2 linked regions of the Homo sapiens genome follow. The protein of the gene in region 2 purifies or fractionates together with the protein of the main gene of each other region. This does not show direct contact. Each region holds a gene or a part of one and is shown on either strand. Other genes may lie near its edges.

Region 1 (3,751 bases), on a different chromosome or scaffold from region 2:
CACTGAGCTACCACCTCACGCTTGTTAGAATGGCTATTATAAAAAAGATCAAAGACAACAAGTTTTGTCCAGAATGTGGAGAAAAGGGAACCCTGGTACACTGTTGGTGGAATGTAAATTAGTACAGCCATTTTGGAAAACAGTATGGAGGCTCCTCAAAATCTAAAAATAGAATTACCACATGACCCAGAAATCCTACTTCTGGGTATATATACAAAGGAATTGAAATCAGTATGTTGAAGAGATAGCTGCATTCCTGTGTTGTTTTCAGCATTATTCACAATAACCAAGATATAGAAGCAACTAAGTATCCATCAACTGAGGACCGGATAAAGAAAATGTGGCACATATATACAATGGAATACTATACAGTCTTAAAACAGAAGGCAATTCTGTCATTTGCAACAACATGGATGAACCTGGAGGACATGAGGCCAAGTAAAATAAGCCAGGCACAGAAGGACAAACAGCACATGATCTTACTTATATACTTGGGGTCTAAAAAAGTTGAACTCATAGAAGCAGAGTAGAATGATGGTTACCAGGGGCCTGGCAGAGGGCTGATGTGGAAGGGAGGGATGTTGGTCAAAGGATACAAAGTTTTAGTTAGGTAAGAGGAGTAAGTTTTAGTGATCTACTGCACAGCATGGTGACCATAGTTGATGATGTATTGTATATTTCCAGGAGAGTAGATTTTCACCACAAAAAATAAGTAGGTGAGGTGATGGATATGTCAATTAGCTTGATTTAATCTTTCTACAATGTATACATATATCAAAACATTACACTGTACGCTATAAATATATAAATTTGTCAATAAAAATAATTATATAAATATATATTTATATAAAACAAAATACATGCTAAGGATAATGCAATGAACTGCAAAAAGTTGTACAGGCTCCCAATAAATAATTTTTGAACGCCTAAGAGCTAAATAAATGCAATACATCACTCCCAGGTGTCTCCACTAGGGGGCCCCATTCCCTCCCGTTCCATCACCTGCTTTCCTCAAGGTCGTCTCCACCCTCCTATTTGTTGATACCCGGCCTCTGACCCAGTTCATCACTTTCCCGGGCTTCCGGGCGCCACCCTCTTCAGGTTTTCCTCCTACCCCTCCAGCCCTGCCCCTCTGGATCTCCCATCCTCCCAGCGCGCCAGACTGCATGCGGCCTCCCCGCCCTGTGTCCAAGAGGCAGCTTCCACTCCACGCGGGCAAGCCTGAGCTCCAGAGCCGTCCTCAAGCCGCCTCCCCCCGAAGCACTGGGACTTCATCCTCCCGGCTACTACTCGTGCCCAGGGACTAGGCCCTGAGCCTTCCCTTCTCGCACGCCCCATAGCCAAGCTGCTCAGCAGAACCTGACGGCTCCACCTTCAAACTACGTCCGGAATCCGACCCCTCTCCACGCCCACTGCCTCCACCCCGGCCACCTTCCTCGGTCACCCTGGCAGCTGCAATGACCAGGGTGACCTTTCTGAAAAGGGAGGCTCTGTTCGGAGCCCTCGCGGGGCTCCCCAGCACAGCGGCCTCCCATGCCCACCTGCTCGGGTGGGATTACTTTCCAACCCCGTTTCCATCCCCCTCCCTGGTCTCCAGCCGCAGCGACCCCCACGCAGAGCCCGGAAGACCTTGGGCCCCGCACATGCTGCCGGCCCGCTAAGAGCTCTGGGTACCCCCGGAGCGCCTTCCAGGCTTTCTCCTAGAGGCGCTGTGTCCCGACCGCGCTCCGGACCTGAGCCACGGCTCACCTGGGGCAGCTCGCGCCCCCGAATACAGTCTCCCACGCCCCGCCCCCCGGGGTGCCTCCCTCCCAGCTCTCTGTACCCACCCACCATCCCCCACATCCCTTCCTCCAACCGCTAGCCAGTCACCAGCCCGGGACCGCAGGGCAGAGGCCGGGCCGCGCATGCGCACCGCGGACCGGTGCCACCTCCGCTCGCGAGCCCGCGGCAGGCCCTGGGCGGTGCGCGCAGTCCCGCGAGAGCAGTGCTTGGTCGGGACCTCGAAGCCGGAGCCCGAGCGGGAGAGGCCGCGGAGACCCCGGCCCGGCGCAGGCAGAGACGCACCTGCGGGAGGCGGGCGCGCCGGCTGGAGAGGAGGCCGTGGGGCGGAGCGGCTCAGCGTTCTGCTCGGCTGCAGCGGCCCCTGCCGGAGACCCGGGCGCCGTGGTCTTCTTTATAATTGAAGGATTGTCTCTCTGTTTTTATTTGGGGTGGGGGTGGGGGTGGGGGGCGGCGCAGTGACTTGCTTCGACTTTGTCAGCTTCCAGGGTTCATTCCACTGCCCAAATATGTAGTGAGTTACTACCGGCTTTGCTTCCTCCTTCAGCAAACGGCTGGACCACACAACTTCAGGAGAGAGGATTTTAAATGTTAGGGTCATTTTCCCTAAAACGATTTCAAATGACGGTGAGTTGGTTCCCAGGCTAGGCCACCTAACCTCGAACGCAATGACGAGTGCACTCTGACTGCTGAGCTGAGAGCCTTCCGTGGCTCTGGGACCCAGTGACTCACGTGGCTCCGCATGTCCCCGTTCCCTTAAAATCGGAGTCTTTCCTTTTCTTGGATTCCGGCTTGCCACCAGCACCACTTGGCAGAATGGAATTGCTTGCGGGCATGTCAGTGGACTAGAAAGGGAAGTAAGTGGTCTGAGAACTTGGGGGCCAAAAATGTTACATTAACATTTTTTGCCTACCTAAAATCTCAGCCACTTCCCACAGTTTGGCTGGAAATTCAGCCCATGTTGAGGCCCTTCTCATTCCTGCAGGTGTTACCAGCAACTCAGAGGTTTATGGAGTAACGAAATTGGGGAGGGCCTCACATCCGGCTGCTGTTTTTCCCCCTAACGTGTATGGTGCTTATTCTGAGCCAGACACTTTTAAGAACTGCACATTATTAACCATTTTAAATCGTCCCCACCACCTGATGAAATAGGTACTGTTATCCCCACTTTATGGGTGGGGAAACCGAGGCCCAGGGAGGTCAAGTAACTGCGCAAAGCACAAAACTGTTGAGTAGTAGTGTTACCAGGGCAGTCCTGGAGAAATCGCTCAGAGGGCAAAACTGAGAGCTCATTATTTTCTTAAACAGTAGACAGCTGAAAATGCTCATTGTTTTTTAAACCGTTTTGTTTGTTTGATTTTTTTTCCTAGTCTCTTTATCTATAGGTAACCCAGCTTAAAACAACTGCGGTTGGCCCGGGATCCTCACTGCCCTTTGCCAAGTACCAGAGAAAGATAAGGCCTACTAGGAACCAGAGAAAACCAGAACCAGCCACCCCTTGTTACTTTTAGATCATTAATACATCATTATATGCTCAACTCCCGACCCGTAGAAGAGAATCGCCGCCATTTTCTGATAGTGCATTGTATGAAGAGGCATGTTTATGAAATGCACCTGTGCGTCTAGAGTTCCTCCCGGCATATGCTTGCATACCTCCCCACTCCACATCTAACGCCTTACAATTCCCCAGCTTCCCAAAGCTCTGGAAGAAGGGGGTCTTTAGAGTGAAAGTTTACTCCTTCTCTATTCCTGGCCAGGAATGAAACCCGCTTGCCGTTTTTTCCAGTTGGTGTGCTTTCTTTGCAACTGATACAGACTAGGAAAAGAACGCAATTTACCAGTAACAGTAGAGCTGGGATTTAAATCTAAGTGCTTTGACTTCAAAGACAAGGTTCCAAGCTGCTACACATACCAATTCTCGTTAAAGTGTATTCCATTTCTTTTGTGCTTTCATATTGACCATTGTGTG
Region 2 (3,751 bases):
ATGGGTGACATCTGAAATTTATGAACATGCTTTAAACTATAATGCAAAAAAAGATCAATTTTAACAAGTATTTATTTTCCCCAAAGGCAATAAAATACACAGCATTCTTTCATATTATATCAAAAGAAGCTTTTCAAGCTGCTAAGCATATGAACCTTACAAGGGTTTTGTTCACAGGTGAGGCTGAGGCAAAGTTTGCTAATACATATACTAAAGAACGAAAAATATTAAAAAGGATTTCCAATTTAATTTGGATATTTATATTTTCGGTATTATATTGGAATTTTACAGTGCCAAATAAAAACTGGAGTTAAGGAAACTCAATTATCTGACATTACACACATTTACAATATATTCTCTAGATATAGAGAAAATATTCTCCATCTGGTTGGGATATATATGGTTACGAAGAATGTGCAGTGCCCATTGAGGATGGTTGGAAAAAATGTGCAGTGCCCTCTCACATTCTTCCCAACCATCCACAATTCATCCTATCAATTCAGTCCTGTCATCCTCATGTAAATTAACTCAACTCCTCTTTTTTCTCAATCCTCCACACATATAATCAGCACATACATTTTGGCACCTGTCAATTACATACTTGTAAGATAATACAACTAACAGTATTCAATGCTTAAGTATGTCTTCTCCCATTATGTATTAGAAATATGTAATTGCCTTCTGTATCCTGTAGTCAGAAAAGTTATTCCAAGAAGCAAGGCCCATGTACCCTCCAGAGCTGTTAACAATACAGACAAGGAAAGCTATATAAATAATTTGTTGATTAACCCGATCACTACAAGGTAGAAAAAGACTTCCCTGGGAGATGGTAGTTTGCAAAACTGACATCTCCATAAAGTAACTTGTTTGCTCACTTATAATGATAAAAAATATCAGCCACCTCCTACCAAAACTTTCTATGTTGCAAACATTTTAAAACTACTGTTATTGCCAGGTGTGGTGGCTCACGCCTGTAATCCCAGCACTTTGGGAGGCTGAGGCAGGCAGATCACCTGAGGTTGGGAGTTCGCGACCAGCCTGACCAACATGGAGAAACCCCGTCTCTACTGAAAATACAAAATTAGCCAGGGTGGTGGCACATGCCTGTAATCCCAGCTACTCGGGAGGCTGAGGCAGGAGAATCGCTTGAACCCGGGAGGCGGAGGTTGCGGTGAGCCGAGATTGCGCCGAGCCGAGATTGCGCCACTGCACTCCAGCCTGGGCAACAAGAGTGAAACCCCGTCTCAAAAAAAAAAAAAAACTACTGTTATTAAAAACTACTGCCGGGTGCAGTGGCTCAAGCCTGTAATCCCAGCACTTTGGGAGGCCGAGGCGGGCAGATCACGAGGTCAGGAGATCGAGACCATCCTGGCTAACACAGTGAAACCCCATCTCTACTAAAAATACAAAAAATTAGCCAGGCGTGCTGGCGGGTGCCTGTAGTCCCAGCTACTCGCTGAGGCAGGGGAATGGCGTGAACCCGGGGGGCAGAGCTTGCAGTAAGCCGAGATCATGCCACTGCACTCCAGCCTGGGGGACAGAGCCAGACACCATCTCAAAAAAAAAAAAAAAACTACTACAATTTCTCTATTTACCATATCCCTATTAGTCTTAATAAATCATCACAATCTTATAAAGCTGGTGTAACAGTAATATATTTATTTTTTAAAAATTTATTATTTTAGATACACACATATATACATACACACACAAAAAGTGTATGGTTTCACCAAAAATCTACCCTTGCAATTTTAAATATGAACGAGATCTTCAAATTGTTTTTGCTGGGCTAAACTAAATCAGGACTCAAGAGCACAGGCTCTAATCAGAATTCAGGAAGGTGTAATATAGTGAAGCCTGTATTTACTGTTACTTTCAAGACTCAGGGTGTTGGCTCAGGCTTAGAAAACGTCTATGAATATCGAGGCAAAATCTCTTGTTAAACTTTATGTTTTATTCTTATTATAAACAATTCTAAATCTCTGATTTGTCATTTTTTCTTATATAGAATACAGTATCAATAATTCATGATTCCTAAAACCATAAATATATATGGCAAAAAAATTCATTACTTATACTGTTAATTTCATTTGCTCCAAGCCCATTTTGTTTTTTTGTTTCTGAAATCCTCTAAACATTCAAATTACTATATTTGTTTTTTCTTAAATATCTCCCTCGAAATCCATCAATTCACTAGACATGTCTATTCTCCTTTGCTGTTCATGGAAAAGTATTAAATTTTTCTTTTAAAATATTTGGTATTTTTAGAATAACAGTATTAATTCTTTCAATATTAAATCTAGATGTCAATGAGCTTAGTAAATAAAGTGCTTCTGCATATGATGTCCTTATTGAAGTTGTTAATTTACAGTAATGTCCATAAAACCAAACGTAGCATCAGAATAAAAAGGTTACGGTAAAATGGGAAAGAAAATGTAACTGCTCTCAAAATAAATAGGATGAGAAGCATAAGAAAATACCAGTCTTATGACTTCATCTTACAAACTAATAAAATAATGAGTATAAGGCACATTTCATTTTTTATACAGCAGAAAAAAAAAGTACAAAAGTGTATCTCTCACAGCCATTACTACAAACTTCGCTCTCACTTTCTTCAATTCTATATCTTAACTCATCAATCAGAAACACAGCATATGCTTAGAAGATTAAAAAACAGAAACCAAACCATGGGACTAGTTTAACTTAGTTTGCACTCAGCTAAATGATGTTTAGACTTAAAATCTCTATCAGATCAAACTAACTACTTTTGTCCTCCCCTTTTCTTTTGAATTCCTGTAAAAAGATTTGTTAACCAAGCATTAAACACAAAGCATTTCTTTCAAATTTTTTAATGTTATAAGGATAAAAAGTAAAAACACTCACTGAAAAATAATAATCCTCACTATCTCAACCAGGGCCACAATAAAACTTTCAACTACTATATACAATATAATAGATAGAATAATATACAAACACCCATGCACCTATCATTTAGCTGCAATAATTACCAACATATAGTAATAATCATACCCAGCACTCCCAGCTGCCTTAACTAAATTATTTTAAAGCAAATCTCATGTATTTTGAGATTTCGCTATATTTCCCTAAAGGTGGTTATGAAGAGAGAAGTTCATGTTCTCCCTAGCCCACTTCCCAGTGGTATGAGATGCCTAAAATAATCATTTTTAAAAGTAGGTGATGAAACTCTCTCAATGGATTATATAGAAATCACATGACAAATACTTTTAATTTTAATCAAAAAATGTTTAAAACGACTTAGATTTACATAGGAAAATGAGACATTTCTTTTTTCAACCAATGTTTATGTAATTCTTACCATCTTCATTCAAAAATAGTTTGTTGAATCTTAGTCCACTCGGCTCTTTTCCAACATATCGATGCACATATTCAGTTCCAAGATCATTAACAGCAATGGCATATTTCAAAGGTTTTACACAGGACTGAAGACAGAAGGGAACTTTGGTATCTCCAGTAGAATGCCTATTTAAAAGGAGATTTTTAAAAAATAACATCAACTGGGAAAAAAATGTAACTGCATAGTTGGAATTATTCTTTTTACATGTTAACAATTCCAACAAAAATTTTCCCATAATTCAACCACAAGTTTATGTCAAAATTACAGAATAAATTTAAGTACAGTCATCCTTTGATATCTGTGGGAGGTGGATTCCAGGAATCCCTGTGATACCAAACTCCATGGACACTCAAGTCCCTTATATACAATGATATA

What was found. Proteins that work in one complex are often made in the same cells at the same time.
Region 1: the proteins of GLS (region 2) and SIRT5 purify together in Homo sapiens (affinity purification with western blotting; 3 studies listed by BioGRID and IntAct, with this or other methods). This does not show direct contact.

Annotation. Positions count from the first base shown.
Region 1 is NC_000006.12:13,572,623-13,576,373, reverse strand, and holds the start of SIRT5 (NAD-dependent protein deacylase sirtuin-5, mitochondrial), read right to left. Parts: upstream 1,774-3,751; 5' UTR 1,630-1,773; exon of another isoform or gene 1,003-1,629; intron 1-1,002. UniProt on the Homo sapiens protein: NAD-dependent lysine demalonylase, desuccinylase and deglutarylase that specifically removes malonyl, succinyl and glutaryl groups on target proteins.
Region 2 is NC_000002.12:190,904,754-190,908,504, reverse strand, and holds part of GLS (glutaminase kidney isoform, mitochondrial isoform 1 precursor), read right to left. Parts: intron 3,502-3,751; coding exon 3,338-3,501; intron 1-3,337. UniProt on the Homo sapiens protein: Catalyzes the first reaction in the primary pathway for the renal catabolism of glutamine. Plays a role in maintaining acid-base homeostasis. Regulates the levels of the neurotransmitter glutamate, the main excitatory neurotransmitter in the brain.